Linked DNA regions of Homo sapiens. The protein of the gene in region 3 purifies or fractionates together with the protein of the main gene of each other region. This does not show direct contact. Each region holds a gene or a part of one and is shown on either strand. Other genes may lie near its edges. The genes, in order: SHQ1, WDCP, RUVBL1 and H2AZ1.

Region 1 (6,974 bases), about 55 Mb from region 3:
AGTGAGCCGAGATCATTTGCCACTGCACTCCAGCCTGGGCAACAGAGTGAGATTCTGTGTCCAAAAAAAAAAAAAGAAAAAAGAAATGAAGTGATTTCCCTGCTTCCAGTTTTACCCTAGTTCAATCAGTCTTCCACTGAGGCTCCAAAATAATTTTTCTAAAACAGGAATCTAATTGTCACTTTTCTATTTTAAAAAGTGTCTATGGCTGCCTCATGTTGCCTAGATAATTTAAACTTATCAGAAGGGCATATCAGGCCCACTCCATATCATTCCAAACTTGAAATTTGAGCTTCCTTTCTTCCCATGGCCCTCCCCCTTGTTTCCTACTAAATATGATTAAAAACAAAAACAGCTGACAGTCCCAAAAGGCCCAGGACCTTTAATCCCAAGGTTTCCTCAAGCTTCAATACATTTTCAGAATGAAAATCCCTCTAAGCCAGAATAAGGGGTCAGTTTATGGATGAGTTTGTTATAATGGTTACAAACGCTAACTTTAGTGTCAGAATCTGAATTAACTCCTAGATCTGCCATTTACCAGATGTGTAACAACCTTCTTTGTACAAGTTAATTATTCTTCAAGAATCATAAATCCCTCTTCTGTAAAGGGGGGAAATAACAGTAACTATCCAAGCGTTACTATGAGCATGAAATGATAATGCAAAGAGCTTAGTGGCCGGCACAACAGGTGAGCATTCAGAAAATGTGAGCTATTATTACCAGCTCCCTTCCCCTAAACTCTATAAGCCTAGAGTTAAATTCTTACTGCAGAGAAAATTATATTTGCTTACATGGGGCCTCCGCAGCTACAGTCTCCATTCTTCAAGGAGAGGGACCAGGTTTTATTCATCCTTGGTATAGCAAACTGTATGTTCTTTTTTTTTTTTTTTTTAGACAGTCTCGCTCTGTTACTCAGGCTGGAGTGCGATAGCGCAATCTTGGCTCACTGCAACCTTCGCCCCCCAGGTTCAAGCGATTCTCTCACCTCAAGCTTCCCAAGTAGCTAGGACTACAAGCGCGTGCCATCAAGCCCAGATAATTTTTTTGTATTTTTAGTACAGATGGGGTTTAACCATGTTGGTCAGGCCGGTCTCAAACTCCTGACCTCAAGTGATCTGCCCACCTCGGCATCCCAAAGTGCTGGGATTACAGGAGTGAGCCACCACATCTGGGGGCAAACTGTATTATCAAAGAATGCCCATCTCACAGCACTCTTCCCAACCATGAAGGTCTATGTTCCCTCCCCTTAAAATTCAGCAGGCTCTGGGACTGTTTTGATGAATACAATAAAGCAGAAGTGACACAGGAATTAGACCTTTAACATATGAATTTGGGGACAAGAGTTGGGGGGGTGCCCACAAATAATCCATCCACGGCAACGGGTAAATAATAAAGCCTCGTTGTAACACTGTCCTAATAACAAATGAGATAATCCGTATAAAGCACTAACCTGGAGTAAAAATTCAATAAATATTTGCTACCACCATAATCTTCTTCCTATTCTTCACATCTTGGCTTAAATATCGCCTCCCCAGAAAGGCTTTTCCTGACCACTTTATAAAACATGGGCCCTTTTTCATTCTCTATTAGTGCACTTCTTTCTCCTCATAGCACTCACCACAATTAAGTACACTGTTTATTGTTTTCCTCTCCCCAGTGAAAAGTACATGAGGGCAGGACTTTGTCTTGTTCAGCACAATAATACCAACACTGAAACTCAATAAATAAATTAAAGAAATAAGTGAATTAAAAAACTGGAAAGTGCAATAATTCAAATACGGACGTTATATGGTCTAAGGGAAATCTGAGCAAAACTGGTTCAGCAACAGTGAAAAAACCACCTTGACTGGTGGAGAAGGTTTGTACCACAAAAGTACTTGGGTGGGAAAAGTAGGATGCAGCTACACTTCAGAAAGATTAGGAGGATGGATAAAGAGAAGGACAAGAGATTGGCAATACTTTAGGATGAATATGTAGCAGCGGGTTCTGTGGAATGGGGTTAATAGCAGTGCTTATCCCTAAGGATCACCGTCAAAGTTAAATGAGATACACCATCATAAAGCACTTAACGGAACTGCTTGTCCACCACACTACGAGTTATCAGTGTTAGCTGCTACCAAGGTTACGATTCTGCAAGGAGAATAATTTAAACAGATCAAGTGCTGACAGACCCTCACGGAGACTTGGGGGAAACAACCACACTTCAGGGACAAAACCAAACAGAAGAGCAGCAGACAGCAGGGAAGCAGGAGAACTAGGCTAATTTGGTGTCAAGAGGTCCAAAAAAGGTAAGAATTTCGGTAAGTAGGGAGCGGACAGACAAGAGATAGATCAACAGAAGGCGGCCTGGGCAAAGTTAAAAGGACCGACGGGTTGGGAAGTCACGGAGATGTCAGCGCGCGCCGTTCCCAGGAAGGGAGAGACTGGGAGAGCAAACGCGGAGTGAAAGGAAAGAACAGAACAAGTCAGAACGGGACGAGAACTAGGGCGACAGGGCAGAAACGGGAAAGTGACACGGTCCAAACGTCACTTTTTCAAGTGATTCCGCAATCCTTTGATATGGGATTTAAGAAAGCTCAAGAAGGAAAAGGGCTTCCGCAGCATCTAAAACGCACCCCTGGAAGAGGGCAGTTCCCTGGCACCAAGAGAAGCTGCGGAAACGTCGGGAAAAGGCATTCGCGCAATCGAGCACTGCTCTCTCGACCTTGCATTCTCCCTCTAAAGCAGCTATCTAACGAATGCGCCTTTCCTGCGGCCAGGCACCCCGAACTCGCCTGAGAAAGTATGGCTTGGCGTAGAACTTGAAGTCAGACCCCTCGAAGTAGACGTCGAACTCGGAGACCCGGGCGTAGGGCACGCGGATGGCGATAGTCAGGAAGTCCGGATCCTGGCTGAGGTCGAACGCCGGGGTCAGCATCGCCGCACCGGACGCAAGGGCCGGCGCCGCTCGCTCTCACTGCCGCCGCGTTCCCGCCACGCAAACTCTCCAACTCCCCACGCGCAGGAACTCTCGGTGTGAGGGACGGAGCTTCCGGCTCGAGGCGGAAGTGCTCGCGCGTAAGGCAGGAAGTCTCTCCCCACGCCAATCTCCATGGAGACGGGACGCCGTTCGAGAAGAGGCGGAACTTTCAAAACCCCCGGGCGGAGAAAGGGCGTGGCGAGTGGTGCCTGGGAGCCGGCGTTGAACCGGCGGGATGACTAGCAACCGAGCCTTTTTCGAGGTTCTTAGAGATGATTTTAACAGCACTGGCTTGACAGGTAAACAGACGTGCGTTTGAATCCCTTCCTGGCCACAACTTCTCAGCTGTAAGACCTTGGGAAAGTTACAAAACCTCTCTATATCTTCTGTAAAACGCGGATAATGCGAGAACCTAGCCCCATAGAAATGCTGTGAGGGTAGCATGAAATTGTGCATGTAGAACTCTAATAACGAACTTGGCAAGTTGTCAACGCTTGATGTGCTGAAGTAGTCACCGCAGTAGCCACAGCAGCACCGTTACAGTGGTTTCCCTTAGTTCTCACCTGCCTTGTGAACAATTCCTCTTACACTTTCCCTTTCCTCCCTCTCTCTTTCCACTTCTCTTTTTCTGCAGCTTTCTCTCTCATTCTTAACGGCTTATTTGAAGAGTTTTCTCTTTAACAGAGCGTCCGTCCCGCTAATCTCATCTAATCTACGCTGCAAACTCTAAAGAAAACGGCTCAGAGAGGTTAATCAGTACGTTTTATAACCATGCATTTTACAGTAATTAGAACTCAGAACGTTTGACTCTTAAACCGTGTCGGTGACTGCATTCACAAATTAAGGTCCCTCTGTATTCCCCTTCTTTCCTTTTTCTCACTCTTGTCCTTACACTTGTCTGAGGACATCTTTTCTGTCTTTTTTTCTACTTGTCTTCCTTGTATTTTCTCCCTTTGGAGTGTGCCCCTTACACTCTCTCAGTGCCTCTCCCGCTGGTTTCCCTCTTCCCCCACATATTCCCTTGGCCTTTCCACACATGTTGTTTCCTGTTATTCCACCACTAATTAGAATAATCCAGTTGTGGTATTTATTCCGTGGTTTTAAGTATCAGTGGAAAAGGGATGAAAAGTACTCTCCTAGGACAGTGGAGATAACCAGAAAACTTCAAAAGTCTTTTCAATCTCCAGCTGTTTTATGATTCTAAGGAGACATTCTTGAAACTTCATTAGGACTCAGAAAAAAAATTAATAGTAACAGGGGCTAACATTAACTGAATATTTACTATGTGCCAGCACTGCAGCAAACCCTTTGTAATGATCTCATTCTCCCTCCTGACCGCTCTATGAAGTAGGCATTATATATTCCCTTGGCTTGCACAGGATCTCACAGCTAGTAAGTGGTGCAATGGGAATTGAAACCCAGGTGAGTCTGATTCCTAGGCCCAGGCTCTACACTATTACAGAGTTGACTCCCTCTGTTATTACCACCTACTTTGTTTCACATTCTAAAGCCAAGCCTGCCTGCTTTAGACCATACTGAGCCTTACAAGTAATAGGCACTCAATATTGACAATGAATTGATGCCAACTTTGATTTAATAAAGCTCTCAAAAGGTCCCTTGAGATAGGCCTGTGACTAAACTATTCCAAATTAGCTTCTTTACAAAGAATCTTGGCCGGGAGCGGTGGCTCACACCTGTAATCCCACCACTTTGGGAGGCCGAGGGGGTGGATCACCTGAGGTCAGGAGTTCGAGACTAGCCTGGCCAAGATGGTGAAACTCCGTCTCTACTAAAAATACAAAAATTAGCCAGGCATGGTGGTGTGTGCCTATAATCCCAGCTACTCAGGAGGCTGAGGCAGGAGAATCCCTTGAACCCAGGAGGCGGAAGTTGCAGTAAGCCGAGATTGTGCCATTTCACTCCAGCCTGGGTGACAAGAGTGAAACTCCATCTCAAAAAAAAAAAAAAGAAATAATCTTTACATCTGCCATGGGACCTCATTCCTGTAGGTCACAAGCATTAATATTTTTAAATTATTAATGCCAGAGAATCAACTGAAACAAGCTATGCTATCCATGAGGAAATTCTAATTGAAAGCACTTTGCAAACTAGAGCTGTGCATTTCCTGGGTACTTTATTATGTGTCTGGCAACACACACACACACAGGACTGCAACACAGGAAAACAGACAACATGGTTCAGTGCTGCCGTCATTATAAGAAATATATACTGCATCTGCTAAATCACAAAATACGGATAGTTTCAAGTATATAACAAGGTTTTGTTGTTTTGGGTTTCTGTTGGTTTTTGTTTTCTTGCAGGCAATAGTTCTCTTATTTTTGCATTTCTATTAGTGGTAAATATAAGTTATAGATTCATTCTCACTTAAGAACATAAAGTTCCTTTTGGCTGCCATGCAACTTTGGTTCTTTCTCCTGCTTCCTCAAAGGCAGTCCTAGCTATCACTTCAGACCCTTTTCTATTTCTACATCCATTTCTATGGACCCTGTTGCTTTGTGTTTAGACCCACTTTATATGGGCACATTCTCACACTATGAAAGTAATTCTGCAACATGCTTTTTTTCCTACTTTGGTTCATTTTTGAGACATAGCTATATTGATTCATAGATCAAATTGAGTTTCTATTTCTGAATACAGACATTGCTTGAGAATAAAGACATTATTTTAATGTTTTAAATTAGCTCTGGTTTAGAGGGGAAAACAGGAATGCAATTTTTCATCATTTTTGAGCATTCAAATGTTGCAGTGTTTTTTATCTTTTCATTTTCTGAAAGCTTACTTTTGAATGGCCTTCCACTGTTTTAAAAATAGTTTTTCCTTCTGGCCTATAGAGAACATGAAATAAAATAATAAGATAAAGTTTTTTCCATGACCAACTTATGTAGGACAAGTGTGTAACCTATCATCTTTCATTATATTAAATTGGCCCCTCCTCTGGTCTAACAACCCTGATTGTGATCCATAAGCTTCCAAATTAAATGTTAAATTAAAAATGGTTTTTATAAACAATTCCAATGTCAGCTTTATTACCAAGTTCTATTGTTAGAAGTCTTTTAATGGTGAAATACTCCTTGTTTCCAGAAGGTGGCATGCATATAGGTGATTAAAACAATGTTATCTCAAAGAATGGAGCTTTAACCTATGTTGAAAAATAGCTTCCTGAATAAGTTGTTTATAGCGCTAGTTCATTCTCTGAGCCATTTTGGGGAGGTGGTGGAATCTTACACAGTATTTGCAAACTACGTCTTAACCACTGTTATTATTTTGGCATACATCTTTTCAGACTCCTATTCATAAAAGTATGGGAAGTATTTTCAACAAAAGAATGTCATAATCTATATTTGCTTTCTTCACTTAATATAGGATTACAGGCTGGGCACGGTCGCCCATGCCTGTAATCCCAGCACTTTGGGAGGCCTAGGCGGGTGGATCACTTGAGGTCAAGAATTTGAGACTGCTGTGGCCAACATGGGAAAACTTTGTTTCTACTAAAAATACAAAAAAATTAGCCAGGTGTGGTGGCACCACCTGTAATCCCAGCTACTCGGAAGGCTGTGAGGCAAAAGAATCCTTTGAACCTGGGAGGTGGAGGTTGCAGTGAGCTGAGATTGCACCATTGCACTCCAGCCTGGGTGACAGAGCAAGACTCCATATCTCTCTCTCTCTCTCTCTCTCTCTCTCTCTCTCTCTCTCTCTCTCTCTCTATATATATATATATATATATATATATATATATATATATAATATATAAAATACATATGTGGCATTACAATATTTCCATTTGACTACATTTTTGTCAAGAATAAGTTTATCCACAATTGTACTCTTTGTTTTTTTGTTGTTTTTTTTTTCAGAGACAGGGTCTTGTGCTGTTTCCCAGGTTGGAGTGCAGTGGCAGGATCATAGCTCACTGCAGCCTCAACCTCCTAGGCTCAAGCAATCCTCCCACCTCAGCCTCCCAAATAGCTAGGACTACAGGTATGTTTCACCACAC
Region 2 (7,026 bases), on a different chromosome or scaffold from region 3:
GGAGGTCCAGGCAACATCAGAGCCACTTCCTGTTCCTGAGAGCAGAAGCCAGTGGGTCTCTGGTCCTCCTTGGAGCTCTGCTAATTCTTGCTGGTTTGAGGTTAATATGCTAGAGCACATGCCCCCCAGCAGACTCCTCAACCTCCTCTTGAAGCCAAGAAAAAGACCTATAACAATGCCAAGGTATCTTTTAAGTGCTCCTAAGACAGCTTCAATGCAGCTTTGGACAAGGGACACAAAGCCTCAGAGAAACCATAAAACACCATCCATATGGCACCATAATATTGTTTTGTTCTGAGAATTCTGCCCTTAGTCAAAACCACACAGTCATGAATACATAAACACCACTTTCGGAGCCATCTAATAAAGACTGAGCTCTGCTACACAGCAGCGAGCCTCAGCTCAGGGGAAACAGGGGGAAACCAGGAGAGCCGACCATGGCAAGCGCTTCGCCTGAGTGCAGTGGGAGTCTCATTGGCGAGTGTCCAGTGTCAAGCAGGCCTTGTTTGTAATGGTCTCATCTGAAGAGCTACACAGCAAGGACACTGCAGATATCAAGCCATGCCATCTACATGGTTACAACAGCCAGTGGTATCTAAACTGGGGGCAGCAAGGCCTGTAAAGACTTTAAGAGAAGAAACAGCACCTGGACTGTGAGAAAAAGAGTCTCTGAAGACATCTGACCTGGACAGGCTGCCATCTCTTATGATTATTTCCTGTGTGGCTGTGAAGGTTAACGGGATAAAGCCCTCACTGTCAGCAGAGAGAAGAATCCAGTGGGAATCTGCAAATAAAAATAAATACACAGGCAATTTAGTATATATTATTCTTATGATGAAACATATGACTACAAATTTTTTTTTCTGAGTGAAGGAATATAGTAGTTGATAATATTCAACTCAATCCTTGTAAGATTTTACAGAGAATGGGGTATTGGGAAGACTGGGTATTACTTAGGGTCAGGTAGGAGAAAAAGGGGAAAAAATGAAATGATATTTGATGTTCAATGTGGTGGCTACTGTTACAAGAATGAGGCATAAGAAAACAACCATGCTCCACATCTGATGAATCTGGCATGACTCAGTCCCTTGCCACTTAGGAATATCCTTTGAACATCCATGTTTACTCCATATTAGAATGGCAACTCCTCAAAGAAATATTCTGTAGGCCGGGCGCAGTGGCTCACGCCTATAATCCCACCACTTTGGGAGGCCGAGGCGGGCAGATCTCGAGGTCAGGAGATCGAGACCATCCTGGCTAACATGGTGAAACCCCATTTCTACTAAAAATACAAAATATTAGCCAGGCGTGGTGGCATGTGCCTGTAGTCCCAGCTACTCGGGAGGCTGAGGCAGGAGAATCGCTTGAACCCAGGAGGCGGAGGTTGCAGTGAGCCGAGATCATGCCACTGCATTCCAGCCTGGGTGACAGAGTGAGACTCGGTCTCAAAAAAAAAAAAAGAAAGAAAGAAACATTCTGCAATGCTGCTATGATCTTTACATTTTAGTGCAACAGAAATAAATGAGGCTTTCTGTTACTTCCTTGCAGTTGTTATACACTGCTTTGTAAGTCTTTTCTTATTTTTTCATATGTACATTTAACTTTTCCAGCTAGGCTGTAAGTTCCCTAAGGGCAGGGTGCATATTTTCCATATGTTTTGGCACCTATACTAGGCCTGGGTATATAGTAGGCAATTAATAATATTTGTTAAGGCTGGGTGTGGTGGCTTATGCCAGTAATCATAGCACTTTGGGAGGCCAAGGTGGACGGATCACTTGAGGTCAGGAGTTCAAGACCAGCCTGGGCAACAGAGTGAGACCCCGTTATCTACAAACATTTTTTTTAAACTTGGCTGAGGCTGGGTGCAGTGGCTCACGCCTTTAATCCCAGCACTTTGGGAGGCCGAGGCAGGCGGATTGCCTGAGCTCAGCCTGGGCAACACAGTGAAACCCGTCTCTACGAAAATACAAAAAATTAGCCAGGCATGGCAGCGTGCGCCTGTAGTCCCAGCTACTCAGGAGGCTGAGACAGGAGAATTGCTTGAACCCGGGAGGCGGAGGTTGCAGTGAGCTGAGACTGCGCCACTGTACTCCAGGACCGGGTGGCAGAGCAAGACTCCATCTCCAAAAAACAAACAAACAAACAAACAAAACTTGGCTGGGCATGGTAGTGAACACCTATAGTTCTCACTAGTTGGGAGTCTGAGATGGGAGGATTGCTTGAGCTCAGGAGTTCGAGGCTGCAGTGAGCTATGATCACACCGAGGCACTCTGGCCTGGGCAACAGAGCAAGACCCTGTCTCAATAATAATAATAATAATAGATTACTTGTTAACTATCCAGTGAATTACTGAATGGTTGGTATCCCTCATTTTCATTACCGGCATAGTTAAAACAGATGGTGGGGGAGGCAAGGATGTTAGCTAGGGTCAATTTCTGAGCACGACCTACCATGTAGCATTTCAATGAGAGAAAGGCCAAAAGTCTGCTGAACTGTACTGAGCCTTAGTTTACCATCACAGAGAAGCACCGCTCTTTTTTCAACAACAGGACCTAGATAATAAGGTTTCTGCAAATAAAAAATAAAAGTTGTTAAACTGATTGCAGAAGTAATCGAGTTAACATTTCTTAAGAAAGGAATGTGTAAATAGTTTTTTAAAAAATTCTTATCTATTACCACTAATCAACTGGACTTCAGTTTTAAGGAGCTCTTTGCTGCATTATTTAACACAACTAAAAAATCCGAACAAAACAGCCTTATTTTTCCTTTTGTTCTACTCTTTCCTCAGGGTTCTTCATCACTAGGAACTGGCTCTCCTAGAATACAACTAATAACACTAAAAGGATGATGGACAGCAGCCTGAGAGACACAATCTGACGGTAAGAACACCTTCTTGGCTGTTTCAGATATAGCTAAGACACCTCATGGTTTATTAGGAAAAAAAATGCCGAGAGAGTGTCCTAAGTGGTAGAGTAGCAGAGGATTTGCATAAAATAAACAAACCATGGTCAAAATTCACATAGCTTAGAAAAAGCACAAATAAAAATAAATGATTTGTAAATTTTAAAGTCATTAAAAATTGGCTGGGCACAGTGGCTCACCCCTTAGTACCAAAAGTTTGGGAGGCTAAGATGGACAGATCACTTGAGCCCAGGAGTTCAAGACCAGCCTGGGCAATATGGCAAAACCCTGTCTTTACAAAAAATAAAAAAGTTAGCCAGGCATGGTGGTACACACTTGTAGTCCCAGCTACTCGGGAGGCTGAGGTAGGAGAATCACTTGAACCCAGGAGGCAAAGGTTGCAGTGAGCTGAGAAGGTGCCACTGTACTCCAGGCTGAGTGACAGAGACAGACTCCATCTCTAAATAAATAAATAAATGAAGGACAGTTGTATAAGTTATGTGTCTAACTTATTTTGTTGTTAAGCACTTTGGGAGGCCAGAGTGCATGGATTGCTTGAGCCCAGGTATTGGAGAGCAGCCTGGGCAACATGGCAAGACCCCATCTCATAAAAAGAAAATAAAACTATACATCACTGTGGTAGGATGAACCACTCAAAGAATATGTCCACTAATATTTTTAAATGAAGTCACAGGAATAAACTGTAAAAGTCAAAACCAACTAATCATTTATTTCACGTCTTATGAAATGTAATTTCTGAAATTACAGGGGAAACTATTTCTTGCTTTTGATTATTGTGTAACTTTTACTTTTCTCATTACAAAAGGAATAAATGATCAATTTTTTAAAAGTATAATAGGGCCGGGTGTGGTGGCTCACGCCTGTAATCCCAGAACTTTGGAAGGCCAAGGCGGGTGGATCACTTGAGGTCAGGAGTTCGAGACCAGCCTGGCCAACATGGTGAAACCCCATCTCTACTATAAATACAAAAATTAGCTGGGTGTGGTGGTGCACACCTGTAATCCCAACTACCTGGGTGGCTGAGGCAGAGAATCGCTTGAACCCAGGAGGCGGAGGTTGCAGTGAGCCAAGATCGCGCCACTGCACTCCGGCCTGGGTGACAAAGCAAAGCTCTATCTAAAAATAAATAAATAAAATAAAAATATAACAGAAATATATAATGCAGACAGTAAAGCCCCCAAAATTCTATCCTCCAGAGATAACTACTGACAACAGCTTGGTTGGATGACATAATTATAAACTAAAAAACTGAGGAATTGAAAGGGCAACAAAACTTTTTTTTTTTTTTTTTGAGACAGAGTCTTGCTCTGTTTCCCAGGCTGGCGTGCAGTGGCACGATCACAGCTCACTGCAGCCTCAACCTCCTCAGCTTAGGTGATCCTCACACCTCAGCCTCCCAAGTAGCTGGGAAAACAGGTGGGTGCCATCACGGCTGGCTAATTTTTGTATTTTTCGGTAGAGACAGGGTTTTGCCATGCTGCCCAGGCTGGTCTCGAACTCCTGGACTCAAGTGATCTACCCATCTCGGCCTCCCAAAGTTCTGGGGTTACAGGTTTAAGCCACTGTGCCTGGCCAAACATGGTTGTTTTAACCTTAGTTTTTAAAAATATAAAATTTTACATTTATAAGTGTTTTAAAAACAGAAAGATATATTATTGTTTGCAAGTAAAATAGCCTATTTAAAGAAAATTTTAAAAATAATATATTTTTATATTAGATTTTTTTTGGATTAGATAAATGTACAGAAAAAATATGGAAATATTTACATCTAACATCTAATAAAATATTTAGCTATATCTGTGATTTTCTCTAAAGGTTGGATTATGGAAAATTTTTACTTTCTGTAATGGTAAAATTTTTTTCCTCAACAAGTATATATTACTTTTGTAATTAGGAAAAAAAAATACTATGCAGCTGTGGAAAAAAAGATGAAAAAAGAGCTCTGTGTGCTGATATAAAGAGCTCTCTAGGACATACTATTAAATGGAAAATGAAAAGGTGTGTATATCACCTTCCCTTTTGTGTAACAAAAGGGGAAATAAAAATACATAACTAAAGTCTGCTAGTATCTGCATAAAGAAATAAAAATAAAAATGGTTACCTAAAGGAGGAAAGGAGAACAGGCTGAAGAAACATAGGGTAGGAATAAGAGTTCTTGGTATACAGTTTTTATTAAAATACAGTTTTGCTTTTTAAACCAAATAAATGAATTACCTATTAAAAAAAGACAGAAGAAAAAGAAAACAAACTCTTTAAAAAGTCATAGTAGGAAAGAAATCCAAACCAGTTATCACATTTATAAATAAAATAATTTTAAAAAAATCAAAACTATGGCTGGGTGCAGTGGCTCACACCTGTAATCCCAGCGCTTTGGGAGGCTGAAGCAGGAGGACTGCTTGAGCCCAGGACTTCCAAACAAGCCTGGGCAACATAGCAAGACCTTGTCTCTATAGTTAAAAAAAAATTTTTTTTAATTAAAAAAAAATTAGGCCGGGCGCAGTGGCTTACACGTGTAATCTCAGCACTCTGGGAGGCCAAGGCGGGCAGATCACAAGGTCAGGAGATTGAGCTCATCCTGGCCAACACGGTGAAACCCCGCCTCTACTAAGAATACAAAAATTAGCCAGGTGTGGTGGCACGTGCCTGTAATCCCAGCTACTTGGGAGGCTGAGGCAGGAGAATTGCTAGAACCTGGGAGTTGGAGGTTGCAGCGAGCTGAGATCGCGCCACTGCACTCCAGCCTGGTGACAGAGACTCCGTCTCAAAAATAAATAAATAAATAAATAAATAAATAAATAAATAAATAAAATAAAATGCTCCTCACAGCAAAGCTGTGACTTAAAAAAAAAAATTAAAACTCTACTACTGAAAACTCCATGTAGTTAATGTGGCAAAAATCCTCTTTAAAAAAATGTAGGGTTGGGGCCACATGCAGTGGCACACACCTGTAATCCCAGCACTTTGGGAGGCTGAGGCAAGACTATCACTTGAGCCCAGGAGGTCATGATCAGCCTAGGCAACATAGCAAGATCCTGTCTCTGCTAAAAAAAAAAAAAATTAGCCAAGTGTGGTGGCATGTGCTTGTAGTCTCAGCTGCTCAGGAGGCTGAAGCAGGAGGGTCACTGATCAGATTGGTGACATACGAGGAAAAGGACAGCCTTATACATAGCTGGCGGGCGTGTGATGATGCACTGTTAAGTAAAAATCTTTGAGAGGCAATCTGGTAACTCAATTAAAAGTAGAAACACATATACTCTTCAAATTTGCATTTCTACTTCTGGGAACCAATCCAACAGAAATAAAGGTACTAATATGAATGGATACATATAAGAGTACTACTGCAGCATCATTTGGAGTAGCTAAAAACTAAAAACAAAGTGAATGTCAATCAACAAGGGAATGGCTAAATAAAGAGCATACTCTCAGTATGAAGTAAAGAGTGCACCATATCACCCTATTTTTGTAAAAACAATGACAAACCATTCCCACATACCTATATATCTATGTACACAAAGACCTGTGTTAGATCATGTGACCATGGAGAAAGTCACGAAAGGATCCATGTTAAGCTGCTGGTTACAGCGGATTAAGGGGAAGATGGGGCAAGGCCATATTTTATATAGGAGGAAAGTGTCCATGATAAAAACATGTATAATATGATCCCACTTATATAATGTTTGGACATGCATGCATAAAGAAATGCATCAAAACATTTTAAATGAACATAACCTTTTCCTTTTTCTTTGAGACGGAGTCTCGCCCTGTTGCCCAGGCTGGAGTGCAGTGGCACAGTCTCGGCTCACTGAAACCTGTGCCTCCCGGGCTCAAGTGATACTCCTGCTTTCCCAAGTAGCTGGGATTACAGGCGCCCATCACCATGCCCAGCTAATTTTTATATTTTTGTTAGAGACAGGGTTTCACCACATTGGCCAGGCTGGTCTCGAACTCCTGACCTCAGGTGATCCACTTGCCTCGGCCTCCCAAAGTGCTAGGATTACAGGCGTGAGCCATGGAGCCCAGCAACATAACCTTTTTTATAACTGGAGGAGTATCTCTATTATATAAGGAAAAGGTTGTCACAATGAAATAACATGATTTTTTTTC
Region 3 (7,026 bases):
CTCTGACCTAATTGCTCCGAATACACCACTGGATCTTTGAGATACCTGCTTTCTCTTTTTACAAATACAGGAAAACACCAATCTACAACCCATCAGAAATAATGAAGGAATGAATGAATGGATTGTTCATTTTATGTTATGTAGCCCACAAAGAGTGAAGAAGGATACCTCAAGTAGGATTTTGAAGCTATGAGTTGGTCTTAACAAGTTACACTTAAACACGCCCTGTGGTAAACTACAAATTGATTTTTGACAAGATAATTACAGCTGGCAAATGCTAAACAGAACCAGACTTCACAGGTGTACGGTCAAATGTCAAGTATGGCAAGCAAATGCTTTAAAGTTGGTACAGAACTGGGCAATGCCATGGCCTCTAAATGCCATTTTCATCTTTCCTCAACTCTGAAACAGGAGCACGAGTAAGGCCAGCTCCCCAGGTATATGGGCTAAGACTGAAAACAAGCTTGTTACTGAAGAACAAAGTGAAACTGAGACGGTGTCTTAAAATTAACAGTCAAGGTTCCTCTCAGATTTTCTTTTCTATGCCCTTTTGGTGATAGTTTTGAGGTAGTAAAATCTGGTAGAGAATCAGTGTATAGCACAGTATAAAATGCACTAGCCAGGAACAGAAAGATTAGTGCTGGTTCTGCCACTAATTTTCAGTGTGACCTTGGGCACTCAGCAAATCTCAGGTGCCCGATTTCCTCATCTGTCAAATGAAAGTACTAAAGTGCCATGCTAGATCACAAGTGGCAAACTCGTTGCTCACAGCCTGGTTCTGTTTGGCCTGCAGTCTCATGGTGACCTTCAGCAAGGCCGAGCACCTGGGGCTCAAGGCAGACACGCCACAGTGCACCCAGCCACTTCCCTCATCCCCGTTGCCTGCCTCATTAGGCATCTGCACTTGTGAGCTCAAGGCTGACACCTTGAAAACTGGTATTCTTCTAAGAGCAAAGGAAAAAAATCTCTGGAACATGAAAGGGCACAATGAGAGGAGCAGCACTCTAACAGCAGACTCCCCGTGGGGCCACAGGCTGGACAGGACCACCCCTTCCCAGTTACTCCTTTCTCTTCCTTGTATCTCTGCCAGCCCCAATTCCCTACCCTCAGTTTTGAACTTCAAAGACAGTGACCACATCCAATTCAATGGCACTCTCCCTCCCTTTAACTAATACAGAAGAGATGAACATACTTCCATTAAAATATGATAAATACTTGGTTAAAAAAAAAAAGCTTCATGTGTGTCTCGTTTCCTCCATTTAAAGACTTCCAGAGGGAAAGTATATGATATGGCTACTATTCCTACACCTACTACAGAGTGCTGCATAGACCTCATCGAATCTCCCCAACTAGCCTATGACCTTGATCATCTAGTTTGTATTTTATAGATTAAGAAACAAACTCAAAAGTTACCAACACACCCAAGGTAAAACCGCAAGCAGCAGCACCAGGATGCAAACCCCAATCTCCAAAGCCATTTTTTTTTGTACTCACCCCATGTGAGTGACAAGTGGCACAAAAAAGAGGTTGTTGCCAAAAGAAGGTTGAAGAAATCTCTATTTTTCAATCTCATCTGAATATCTCCTTCTTCTAAAACCCAAACCCATTATTAACAGTGTGAGGTCCTCAAGAGTGGAAATGCATATGAACCATGCATTTGCATCTCTAAAATAAGCAGTATTTCTGCCTGTCACCCAGGTAAGTTGCCTAAACTTTGGGACCCTGCAGCAAACCATTAAGCAGAAGTCACCAAATTCCTTCATACACATTGGAAGGGAGTGGACAAACTTATAAGGTAATACCACAGTGCTGAGCACTTCTCATATTTCCTGGGAGGAAAGCAATACAATATCACCAAAAAAAATGAAAGACATATGCTTCTAGCAATATGGCACACTGGGTCCACTGAAAACCTCTCCTCTTACAAAACACCTAGAATTGAATAAATAATAACATTCAGAGCAGTAAACTATTTGCCTTGAAAGTTCAGAGACTGTAGATACAGGAAAGCTCAGCAAGGTATAGCACTTAAGATAGAAACCCCTGAATAAAACCGGGACTGGGCACGGTGGCTCAAGCCTGCAATCCCAGCACTTTGGGAGGCCGAGGCAGGTGGATTGCTTGAGCCCAGGAGTTCAAGACCAGCCTGGGCAAAATGGCGATACCCCATCTCTACGAAAACTACAAAAATTAGCCAAAGCGTGGTGGTGTGCACCTGTAGTCCCAGCTACTCAGGAGGCTGAGGTGGGAGGACCACCTGAACCCAAGAGGTAGAGACTGCAGTGAGCCGAGATCACTGCACTCCAGCCTGGGTAACAGACCACTGCACTCCAGCCTGGGCGACAGACTGAAACTGTCTCAAAAAACAAACAAACAAACAAAAACATTACAATTAAAAAAAAAACATAAAAGAGGACTCTTGAAGGGCCACACATGAGTAAAAAAGGTGGGCCATAACAAAATACATCTGGGGGCCAGGCACAGTGGCTCACGCCTGTAATCCCAGCACTTTGGGAAGCCAAGGCAGGTGGATCACCTAAAGTCAGGAGTTCGAGACCAGCCTGACCAACATGATGAAACCCCATCTCCACTAAAAATACAAAAATTAGCCAGGCACCTGTAATCCCAGCTACCCAGGAGGCTGAGGCAGGAGAATCGTTTGAACCTGGGAGGCAGAGATTGCAGTGAGCCAAGATCACGCCACTGTACTCCACCCTGGGCAAGAGAGCGAGACTTCATCTCAAAAAAAAAAAAAAAAGACATTATAACTTGTAACAATTTATGCAGTGTGTAATCTTTGATTGCATTTTGATATTCTGGTGTTTTTTAAAAAGCCAAAAACTGAAACAACTTGGAAAGATGTTTTCTGATTTCTATCACCTATATTTTCTTTTCATTAAAACAATTTAACTTCGTTGTCTTTGAAAGCACATTTGTTAACTGCTCATGGAATCATATGATGAGCTGCCAGGCTCCCTCATCTTTGTGATTTCTCTACCACAGTGGATATGGTTACCTACTCCTTTCTTTAAAGGTTCTCCTTTCTTGGTTCCTGAGACACCATTCTCTCCCTGGCTCTGCTGCTCATTTTTTAAAAATTAATTAATTTAATTTTTAATTGACAAAAATTGGGGGAATATAATAGCATTAGCAAGGTGGGTCTGATGATGGCACCGTGGTCATGTAGGAAGACATCCTTACAACTTACTGTCAAGTGGTTCAGAAATAAACTAGAGAAAAAGCAAATGTCACAAAATATTTATAACTGGCTATCTAGGTATAGGGTATAGAGGGGCTCATCACACTATTCTTTCAAGTTTTTTGTAGGTTCCAAACTTTTCAAAATGAAAAGGAAAAAAATATTCAATAGATTGGATTAATCAGTCACTTAATCATAGCTTAAGAGACAATTAGACTGGAACAAAGATCTAAAAGAAATTACCCATAATTTAGCAGAGTCAAAAAGATAACAAATATGAGAGGCTAAAAGACAAAGAGGACAAAACGAGAAGCTCTAGCCCAGGGTTTCTCAGCTTGACTCCATGACGTTTGTGGCCAGATAATTCCTTATTATGGAAACTGCTCTGTGCACTACAGGATGTTTAGTAGCATCCCTGGCCTCCACCCACTAGATGCCAGTAGCACCCCCAACCAAGTCGTGAGAACCAAAAATGTCTCCAGACGTTGTCAAAGTCCCCTGCAAGGGCAAAACTGCCCCAGGTTGAAAACCACTGCAATCTTAACCTCATCTCAGTGGAGTTCCAGAAGGAAAGAACAAAGAGAATGGGGAAAGGCAATAGCTGAAGAGATTAACGCTGACAGTTTTTTTGTTTTTTTTTTTTTTGAGACGTAGTCTTGCTCTGTCACCCAGGCTAGAGTGCAATGGCATGATCTTGGCTCACTGATACCTCTGCCTCCCAGGTTCAAGCGATTCTCCTAAGGCTGACAATTTTCCAGAATTGAGCAGAGACATAATACTCAGATTCAAGAAGCACAATTAGCATTAAGCATGATAAACAAAAATTAATCCACTCTGACATATAATAGTGAAACACCAAACCCAAAAATATCTCAAAAACATGCAGAAAGAAGACTCAAAACCCTCAAAATTAGACTTCTCAAAAACAACAGAAGCCAAAGGAGCAAATAACATTGAGAGAGAAGTACTGTGAAACAGTACTGAAGAAAATATCTGTCAACTGAATTATATAGCCAACATAGCTCTTTTTCAAAACAAGGGCAACATAATGAATGCAAACGTGAGAGACTTTCCCACCAACAAACTTCTAGAAGAAATTTCTAAATTATTTACTTTAGGAAGAAGAAAAATGGAGGGAAAGAGAAGGTCTAAGATATAAGGAATAGCAAGCAAATAAATGGTAAATGCACTGGACAAGCTAATGTTGCCTGGAGAGAGGTAACTGAAGCTCACATCTGTATGGCACTTTACAGTTTAAAAAACTGTTCACAATTTGCTTTTATATAGGAAGAGAAAAAACTGTTCACAAATATAGCACTTCTTCCTCTTGTAAGATACCAATATAAGATACACAATCAGTAATCATTTCAAAATTATAATGCAAGTCATTATCTTACAATCGATCAGTTTAATAATTGCTTGAAATAGGTAGAGTATGCTTTTGCTTAGAAAAGTTAAGGGACCTGCCTCAGGTCTCATAGCAAGTCAATACTAGAGCTGGAATTTAAAGCCCATTTCTTTTCACACACAACCCCAAGCTCCTACTTGCCCACATCAAGCGGCCCTTTTGAAGAATAAGCAAGCTCAAATTGGGAACTCTGGTGAGTTTCAAGTATCTGGCCAGTCCCCTCACGAATCCCAAGAAGCCACACGGTGTCCTCTGCCTGAAAGGCCCTTATCTTCCCTGCAAAGCCAAATCCTCTCCCAGCTCTGAAGGGAAAATGTCAAGTCTCAACCCTTCCAGCTGTACCAGCCCACAGTGCTGCCTCCTTAAATTCCAGCTGCATTTAATATTAGTCAATACCTCAAAGCTGAGCACTCATACTGAGTCCTCCTGTGCTGTCATGATTTCCTTTCTTTCTGCCCTGGAGAGACTGTAAGCCCCTTGAAGATAAAAATCATGTCTCTAATTCTTGTTTTCCTTTTTTTCATCTCCCACACAGCCACAATAGCGATGCGTAAAGCTAGCATTTGGAAGAATGCTTGACTCATTTTTTTGTCCCCTCAAGTAAGATGTCACTCAGAAGATCTTTATGAAGCCCTAGGCCAACAGAAATGTATTTCCACAGCAAAGGAGACTTGAAAGAGAAAAAGGACAAATTCTAGAGACAATGAGACCCCTTCAAGGACTTCATTCTTTCTTCTCTGGAGGTAGGCCAGGATAATTTGAATTTTAGAAGCAGGGATTTTAGATACCCAATTGTATTATTGCATATTAATTTTAAAAACATACATATAACCCATTTAGCTAAACAAAGACTAGTTAAGACATGAATTCAATTTGGCTTAGACACTAGGATCATTCTCCTGGGTAGATTTAAAAAATGAGAGAAAATGAGTACCTTGCCAGTTCCAGGAGGTCCTGCCAACAAGACAGCTCTTCCAGCCATTTTCTTGCTTTTGATTAATTCTACTATGACGCCACATGCCTACACACCACAATGGAAAGAAATAATAAATCAATATTAAAATGTTTCACAAGGGGAAAAATCTCAGTCCCTGGCCTACACAAGTCACACACTCATCCAACTAACACTGAGTGCCAGTGCACTGCAGTCACTGTTCTAGGTGCCGAGGGTAACGAAGGCAAGGCAGAAAAGCCTTGTACTTGTGGAGCTCATGTTTTAGGGAGGGATACAAACATACAAACATTGCACACATAATCTTCATCACTACTATGAAGAAAAAGGGATGATGAGAGAGAACGAGTGGCTAGAAAGTGATCCTGGAGTGTCTTTCTGATGACATTTAATTTGATATGTGAACCTCTGGGAGGAGCAGGAGTCAGCGTTCCAGGCAAAGAAAACAGCGAATTCAGAAAATCCAAAGCAGAAACAAGCTTGGCATATCCAAGGGACAGAAAGGTTGCAGTGACCAAAGTATAGCGAAAAAGACCAGGAAGATGAGGTTGAAGAGGTAGACAGCGGCCAGAACGCAGAACAGGAACTTACAGTGTGTGGTAAAGTTTGGATTTTATTCTACATAAATAATACAAAGCCACTGAAAAGGTCTTGAAGACTATGTGTCATGCTATGATTTGTTTTTAAAAGATGGTGCTAGCTACTACTGTGTGAAGAATGCACAGTATGAGTACAAGTGGGAACACTGATTTTTGGCCCAGGGTACAGGGATAGACGCCAGGGGCCCAAATACCTCTTGAAGTTGGGAACGAAACTGTGTTTATGTTCATATATACATTTTTTCCAGAGAAAGGATCCATAGCTTTCATCAAATTCCCAGAGTAACCTATTAAGGGGTAAGAATCAATGACATAGAGTACTAGCTGGCCATCAGTGAACACTGTAAATACTGAATGTGAAGTTAAACCTATGGCACTATTAGATCCATTGAATATGTTTTGAATCCTCAAGGTTAAATTACTTTATCATCTGTTAGTATATTTTAAATACATTATAAATCTCTGAATTTTATTAACCATTTGCAGTACACATGTGTGTATATATACACACACATATTCCATAAATGGGCTATGGAACTTCATATATTTTAGAATATTTGACTATAAGGGGGGAACACTGAGAAAGTTACACTAGCTGAGCATCTATATCTCAGGATTACATAATATAAGGTTTGCTACACTGATTTAATAACTGAATACGTGACTATCTAAAAGGTGCTCTTCTCTCTGGGCAGTGACCACACTGTGCCAGAGTCTTGTGAATACATCTTATCTCTTCTACCTCTATTCCTCATGGACTGTGAAGTACCTTGGTCCCACACTTATGGCAGCCCCTCAAAAAATATGTAAGGACTACAGGCGCCTGCCACCATGCCTAGCTAATTTCTTGTATTTTTAGTAGAGAAGG
Region 4 (7,348 bases), on a different chromosome or scaffold from region 3:
GCTGTTAATTCTGCTAACTACCATAACTCGGTACTTTCAAATAAGAAACCCTGCTTCTCTTCGATAAAATGGAGATAGTATATCCCCAATGATGTTACTGAGTACTTAACAACTTCAGACTTCAAAGCAGGGCCTGGCACGTAGCACTATTATCTTTAAAGTTTAAATTCGGAGTTCATTCTGTGGATATACAGGACATTCCTACCTATTCTCTCCCTCCCCAAGTCCACCATGCTAACAGCATACTAGTGCAGTGCTGTCACACAGCAAGCGAAGCCAATGTACAAACTGAAATGGTCACACTTAGCCTAAGAAACTGACAATCCCACTCCAGCTCCTGCCAACTTTTTAAATTAAAACTTTAGTAGCTCATATAACATTAAAAAAATATACTTGGGCTATCTCACTTTGTTGATCTACAGATTTGACAGTTCAGTCACAAAGAAATGTGCTTAGTTATTGCTGCTAGATGAGATACTCAAAACAAGTTCCTATTACAACCAAGCAAATTTAATACACAACTAGTTTGGGATATGACCTTTATTGAACTTATCCACCAGAGTGGAAATAATGTCTGTACAAAACCAAATGTTTGTTACTATAACTTCTGCATCACAATTAAAATCCAAACAGTTTTTTAAAAACAGTCAACTCAATCAAAACCCACTACTTCAGAATCAATAGCTTCTTTGAAGCCACAGTAACACTTAAATATGGTTAAGACTCGAATGCAGAAATTTGGTTGGTTGGAAAGCTAATTAAACTTCCAACTTGCTCAAATAGAATTACAAAAAGGCAAAATTGTGTTTTTCACAGAGATACAGTCCACTGGAATCACCAACACTGGACAGCTGTTAGAGTATTTAGAGTCCTGAGATAACAAGGAATCCAGGCATCCTTTAGACAGTCTTCTGTTGTCCTTTCTTCCCAATCAGAGATTTGTGGATGTGTGGAATGACACCTAGGAGAGTGACAGGAATTAATTCTACTTAAGATTTTTTAAAAAATCACAGTATTTGAAACCAAGAAAGTGTATACTGTTCAACTTGAAAGGTATCTTTAAAAACATGCAGCTCAAGTATGAAGTAAAAATTCATTGAGTTATACATATAAATCAAATTTCATGATACAACCATACTTCCATCATTGAAAATATACTTAAATTTCCTCTCCTGGAAAAACTAATTAAAAGCAGCAAAAAATTCCTTCCTCTGAAGAAATTTTTTAAAATGTTAGAAGTTAACATACCACCACCAGCAATTGTAGCCTTGATGAGAGAATCCAATTCTTCATCTCCACGAATAGCAAGTTGCAAGTGACGAGGGGTAATACGCTTTACCTTTAAGTCTTTTGATGCATTTCCTGCCAGTTCAAGTACCTAAAAGGCAGAATCTGTCAGTTGCCTTCCAACTTTCCTTTGGCCAAGATTCAGAGAACAGAATAAAACCCTCACAAACGCAGATCTACCAACTGGAATCGTTCCTCACTATCTGACTGGCAAGATATACAGGGGGCACGCAATTTTAATTCCAAGAGCAGAGAACTCAAGCTCAGTAGGATCCTTGTTGAACACCAGCTCCCTCTAGCGTTCTCTTAGGCCTCTCGCCGCGTTCAGGGCCTGGGAGTTTTCTTGCATCACTTTCCTCCTTCCCTCTTGCCGCCTCCCCGCCCCCCAAACCTTCTCCGGATTATAGGCGTTCACCCATTTACCTCTGCGGTGAGGTACTCCAGGATGGCTGCGCTGTACACAGCGGCAGTCGCGCCCACACGTCCATGACTGGTCGTCCTAGATTTTAGGTGTCGATGAATACGGCCCACTGGGAACTTAAATTTTAAGCATACACAAACATAAATGCACAAAAATGAGAACTAGAGATGGGGAAATTATATGCGCGCCAAAGCAAGGGGCACGGGCGCAGCAACGCGTCCCGACATCGAAACACGTGATTCCTCCCCCCCATATTTATCGTATGGGCAGCCCAAGTCGCGACACCGCATCACCCACGCATACACAAAACGCCCATCGAGAGCGATGAATAACAAAAAAGGAAATGCAAAGAAAAACATCATGACTCCCAGACTGCACGAACAACTACTGACCTGCAAGCCGGCTCTCTGCGAGCGGGAAACCGCCTTTGTCTTGGCCTTTCCGGAGTCCTTTCCAGCCTTACCGCCAGCCTGCGGCGCGCACACGCCCGCGAGCGGAGGAGGAACGGAGAATATAGAATTACCAAGGCGGCGCGCCCATCCCCCACCGCGGCGCGTCCCGCCGCGAGCGCGTCCCCGCACCCTGCCGGGGTCTCCGGCCCGCGGCGCGCCGCAGGGGCGACCCCGCCCGTTCGCCCCCCGCCGCGCGCTCGCCACGGCCGCGCGCCTCCGCCCGCCGGCCCCCAGCGGCGCTGCGCGCGCCACCCAACCGTCGCCGCCCGCCGCGAGATCCGAGGCTGCTCCGCTAGCAGCCGACAAAACACCTCCCCCCACTCTTCTAAATCCTGTCTCCGCGCGTTCCCAACCGTCGCCACTTCACCCCCATCCCTCTGTGTAACGGGTTTTTCTCTCGCCGGCAAAAACCCGCGGAGTCATCGAGCGTCTCTGCGAAGTTTACCATTTCGAATTCCGCTGAAGCTCAAGCAAGCAAGGCAGAGAAAAGGCTAATCGGACCCACGGTGAGATCCCACCACCTACTCCTTCGTCGCACCGCGATTCAAACTGCGCTGTCTCCCGCCTTCCCTGCTCCCTTTATACTGCAGAATGTTCCCTCATCCGGGAACTCGGATTGCTCATCCCACCAATGGCTGCCACCCGCCCTCGGGACGCGTCCTTGAGACTTCAGCCAATGAGCAAGCGAAGAAAAGGGTGGAGGGGCGGGCGCTTCTAATCTCAAGCCGCGATTGGGGCGTGGGGGGAGAGGCGGGGGAAGGCGGAGGGATGGGAACGGGGGAGAAGAAGGGCACCGCGGCGGGAGGGAAGAAACAGAGCGAGCTACGCTGCAGGAGCGCAGTTACCAGCCGGCTGCGATCACGTGCCTGGGAGGAGGAGCTGAGACCTCAGGGGAGGGGCGCGCGGTAGCGTCCCGGGTCCCCTAGCAGGGCTCTAGAGACCACGTGAAGTCTCCTCGGTATGTAGCACGCCGCCCCCACCACTCCCAGCCCCATTCCCAGCGCCTCTCGGGCGGAGACCTGCGACCCGCAGCCGCTTTCCGGGGCCCCGGACACCCCTTCCCTACCCTCTCAATCCCTGGCGGCTCCTCCCGTCTGACAGGTGGCGCGAACGCGTCCAGTGAGAGGAGTCTGAGGTTTGCCCTGACGCCTTCCACAGCCTTAGTAGAGATTCCGTGTTTCTTCCGTCTAGGCGAGTCCCCAGCCACCAACAGATCACGACCCGCTGCTCCCACTTTATTTTCAGCCGGGTCTTCCACCTCTCCCTCACTACTTATGAAATCCTCCACGGAATAGTTCTGTGACAGCAAACGGTGAAGCCAAGTCACCTCACTGGTCACGAAACCCTTTTTGTCTATACTTAGGGAGCTTCTGGCGAGGCAGTATTCTTTAATCAAATCATAAACCATATTTTTTGGAGACTACACATCAATGGGTTGTACCTGTAGCCTGGTGTGTAAAGCTCATTTAGTGAAACCTCAGAGCTATTATGTGTCAACTTTTCTACAGTAAGTATTTTGCCACATGACAAATGTTCGGCAAATGTCGATGGAGTAACTCTGACATGATTTTCAGGCAGTTAGAGGGTCCATGCAATGCAATCAGTTGCAAATGATGAGGTTAAAGTAATGGTACTGTACACACAGTACTATCCTTCCAACTAGTAGGTTATTAACACCTATGTACATCTCCAGCTGCTTGGGGACAGTAGTGTCTCAATCTCATTTGCAGTGTTTTAGTGTATTACATTTTTTAACATAATTGAATAGTTTCAATGTGACGAACATTTTGAAACATATACTCTATGCTGGGCATGGTGGCTCACACCTGTAATCCCAGCACTTTGGGAGGCCGAAGCGGGCAGATTACGAGGTCAGGAGTTCAAGACCAGCCTGGCCAACATGGTGACACCCCATCTCTACTAAAAATACAAAAATTAGCCAGGCATGGTGGCGCCCGCCTGTAATCCCAGCTACTCTGGAGGCTGAGGCAGGAGAATTGCTTGAACCCGGGAGGCGGCGGTTGTGGTGAGTCAAGATTGCGCCACTGCACTCAGCCTGGGGAACAGAGCGAGACTTTCTCAACAACAACAACAACAAACATATACTCTGAAGTACTTTAGATTGGGTTTCAATTTGAAAGATTTTATCGAATTAGAGGACCTCCCAATTTCTGTGAGATAAATTCTAGAGAAGAGCTTCCCAACAATTTTGACATTGAGGTTTATTATTTCTTGGAACCAAGGAACTCTTATGATGTCGTCGATAGCAAGACTTCAGCCGTTTTCCTACTGATAATATAATAATGATATATTAAGCTATGAAACCTGATAGTTAACGATGGCTCCAGGGAAGCTTTGTGATATATAAAAAACCAACATTAATGCCATCTCTAGTTTAGATAATACTCTGCCAGCTCTTTGCTATGAAGCCCCATAAAGGGAATTTACTGTTGCCTCGCTGAATAGTGGTTAGGAGGATGAACTCAGAAGCAAGTACAGATGGATTCTGTTCTGCCTCCTCCTCACTGTGTCATCTTAGTTACTAATCTTTCTGAGCTTCGAGTTCCTATTCTGTGAAAAGATAGTATCATCTATTTTCACATGGTTGAAAGATTAAGGAAAAAGGTATGCAATGTACATAGTAGCATGTGTTTGGCACGTAGTTAGCCCTCAGTAAATAACTGCTATTATTTTCTACATTGGATGCTGGAGAGGGATGAAATAAAGTATCTTTTATTTCTAAATCTTTTTTGCTATTTGGTTTATTTTCTTTCTTCGATTTGGAAGCAGCAAGCTTGAAACCTGCCCAAAGTATACACAACCAAGTCTTCCAACATCCAAACTAAAATCCAAAATTGGTTTAATAACTCAATAATTTTCCTTCAGAGAACAGGACAGTATTACTTTCTGCACTTTTCTCAGAGTGGTATGATGATTTCCTACTCTTTTTCCTGCCCCCCCCAGAAAAGGTATGATGCAAATATGTTAATATTGTTGGTTTATCTTTCCAGTTCCTGTGTTAATAGTAATGCATGTATATAATGTACTTAGCCAGAGCTATGTAATTACTTTTGTTTAATGCCATACCCAATTAGTTCTCTCACCATAAAAAAATATGAGATGCCAAGGCAAGAGGATCACTTCAGCCCAGGTGTTAAAGACCAGGCTGGGCAACATAGCGAGACCCCATCTCTACTAAAAATACAAAAATTAGCAAGGCATGGTGGCCCCTGCCTGTGGTCCCATCTACTCGGGAGGCTGAGGTGGAAGGACCACTTGAGCCCATGGTTGCAGTGAGCCATGATTGTGCCACTGAATTCCAGCCTGTGTGATAAACTGAGATCCTGTCTCGAAAAAACAACAAAAAATCCTCAGATGAGGTAGGCGAACCCACTATTATTGACACTTTCCTTAATAGCCTTTTCCTAACTAAGCCAGATTTTCCATGACTAGTTGCTATCTCCTTTGAAACACTAGCATGTATGTTAACTACTATTGTTCTTGTCTTTTTATGTAGAGAATTTGAGAGTCTTACAATTGGGAATTATAAATTTCTCAACTACATCTTGCCTTAAAAACGTATTTTTAAGAAAATATGAATAAGTTCTCAAGTTATTTCCAAGGATATTAGCCTAGATCGATAATGGCGGCAAAATTCTTTTCATCAGGAAATCTACATTAGAATCTTGGTTCTCTCTACCTAGGGCACCTAGGAAAAATATGTGCCTTCAAGGATTCACACAGCTGTGAATAACTGAGTTCCAGTGTGGTATTATGCAAAATATTGAACTAGAGTAAAAGAATGAGGGTTGAGTTTGGGTAGCCACTTACTTGCTATATGGCCTGAAGTATGTAAAACACTGAGGCACAGTTTCATTTATTAAATAGGGATTCGTAACACCAGATAAACCAACTTGATAGAATTGTGAAAGAGTTTCGTTAAGTGCGAAGAATATGTAGAGTGATGTAATAATATTTTTGGCACCGAGGCCATAGTCCTTCCTGAATTCTGTTTAGGTTGAGAAGCCTATGTGTTTAATTCAGTGTTGATAAAACCAAAGCCATCGATTTAAATTCCAAATTGCCCAGCTTTGCACTTCTCATGATCACAGATTGCACACAGGTAACAATTCACAAATGCAGGGAATAGATGACAAAGATCAGCAGAATCTACTCCACCCAGATCCACTGCCATTTCAGGAAAACAAAAGATCATGCTTTTAATATAGCACTAATTTACTTTTTCCATACATTAGTCCTCAGAATTTTTGGAAATTTATTGTTTTAAAATTAAAAAATCAAGATTCTTATCATATCCTTTTATTATCTATTATTGATATCAATATCGATCTTTAGGATTTTCAGGGCAGGGGAAGGGAGTCCATGTGTTGAAATTTTTTTCCTAAATAATAGTGTATTTGCCTAGGCAGTGGGTCCTCCTTCTCTGTATTCCTGTGTTCTACATCTATGGATTCAACCAACTGAGGATCAAAAATATTCACAACGTAAGCTGGGTGTGGCCAGGCGCCGTGGCTCACACCTATAATCCCATCACTTTGGGAGGCTGAGGCGGGTGGATCACTTGAGGCCAGGAGTTTGAGACCAACCTGGCCAACATGGTGAAACCCTGTCTCTAATAAAACTACAGAAATTAGCCATGTGTGGTGGCATGCACCTGTAATCCCAGCTTCTCAGGAGGCTGAGGCAGGAGAATCGCATGAACTTGGGAGGCAGAGGCTGAAGTGAGCAGAGATCATGCCACTGCACTCCAGCCTGAGTGACAGAGTGAGACTTGGTCTCAAGAAAAAATAATAATAATAAGCTGCATTTGGGGTGTGGCAGTTCATCCCTGTAATCCCAACAATTTGGGAGGCTGAGGTAAAAGGATCCCATGAAGCCAGAAATTCAAGACCAGCCTGGGCAACATAGCAAGGCCCTGTCTCTAAAAATTTTTTTTTTCAATTAGCCGGGCATGGTGGTACACACCTGTACTCCCAGCTACTAGGGAGCCTGAGGCAGGAGGATCCCTTGAGCCTAGAAGTTCAAGGCTGCAGTAAGCCATGATCACACCACTGCACTCCAGCCTGGGTAATAAAGCAAGGCCCTGACTTTCTAATTTTAAAAAGTATGGTTGCATCTGTACTAAACATATACAGACATTTTTTCCTGTAATTTCCTAAACCACATA

The links.
Region 1: the proteins of RUVBL1 (region 3) and SHQ1 purify together in Homo sapiens (affinity purification with mass spectrometry; 4 studies listed by BioGRID and IntAct, with this or other methods). This does not show direct contact.
Region 2: the proteins of RUVBL1 (region 3) and WDCP purify together in Homo sapiens (affinity purification with mass spectrometry; 7 studies listed by BioGRID and IntAct, with this or other methods). This does not show direct contact.
Region 4: the proteins of RUVBL1 (region 3) and H2AZ1 purify together in Homo sapiens (affinity purification with mass spectrometry; 6 studies listed by BioGRID and IntAct, with this or other methods). This does not show direct contact.

The regions. Positions count from the first base shown.
Region 1 is NC_000003.12:72,845,424-72,852,397, forward strand, and holds the start of SHQ1 (protein SHQ1 homolog), read right to left. Parts: upstream 3,023-6,974; 5' UTR 2,918-3,022; coding exon 2,775-2,917; intron 1-2,774. UniProt on the Homo sapiens protein: Required for the quantitative accumulation of H/ACA ribonucleoproteins (RNPs), including telomerase, probably through the stabilization of DKC1, from the time of its synthesis until its association with NOP10, NHP2, and NAF1 at the nascent H/ACA RNA.
Region 2 is NC_000002.12:24,030,379-24,037,404, forward strand, and holds part of WDCP (WD repeat and coiled-coil-containing protein), read right to left. Parts: intron 2,880-7,026; exon of another isoform or gene 2,828-2,879; intron 2,569-2,827; coding exon 2,451-2,568; intron 785-2,450; coding exon 555-784; 3' UTR 1-554.
Region 3 is NC_000003.12:128,113,787-128,120,812, forward strand, and holds part of RUVBL1 (ruvB-like 1), read right to left. Parts: intron 5,629-7,026; coding exon 5,542-5,628; intron 1-5,541. UniProt on the Homo sapiens protein: Possesses single-stranded DNA-stimulated ATPase and ATP-dependent DNA helicase (3' to 5') activity; hexamerization is thought to be critical for ATP hydrolysis and adjacent subunits in the ring-like structure contribute to the ATPase activity.
Region 4 is NC_000004.12:99,947,563-99,954,910, forward strand, and holds H2AZ1 (histone H2A.Z), read right to left. Parts: upstream 2,714-7,348; 5' UTR 2,609-2,713; coding exon 2,606-2,608; intron 2,179-2,605; coding exon 2,101-2,178; intron 1,825-2,100; coding exon 1,711-1,824; intron 1,379-1,710; coding exon 1,249-1,378; intron 962-1,248; coding exon 900-961; 3' UTR 526-899; downstream 1-525. UniProt on the Homo sapiens protein: Variant histone H2A which replaces conventional H2A in a subset of nucleosomes. Nucleosomes wrap and compact DNA into chromatin, limiting DNA accessibility to the cellular machineries which require DNA as a template.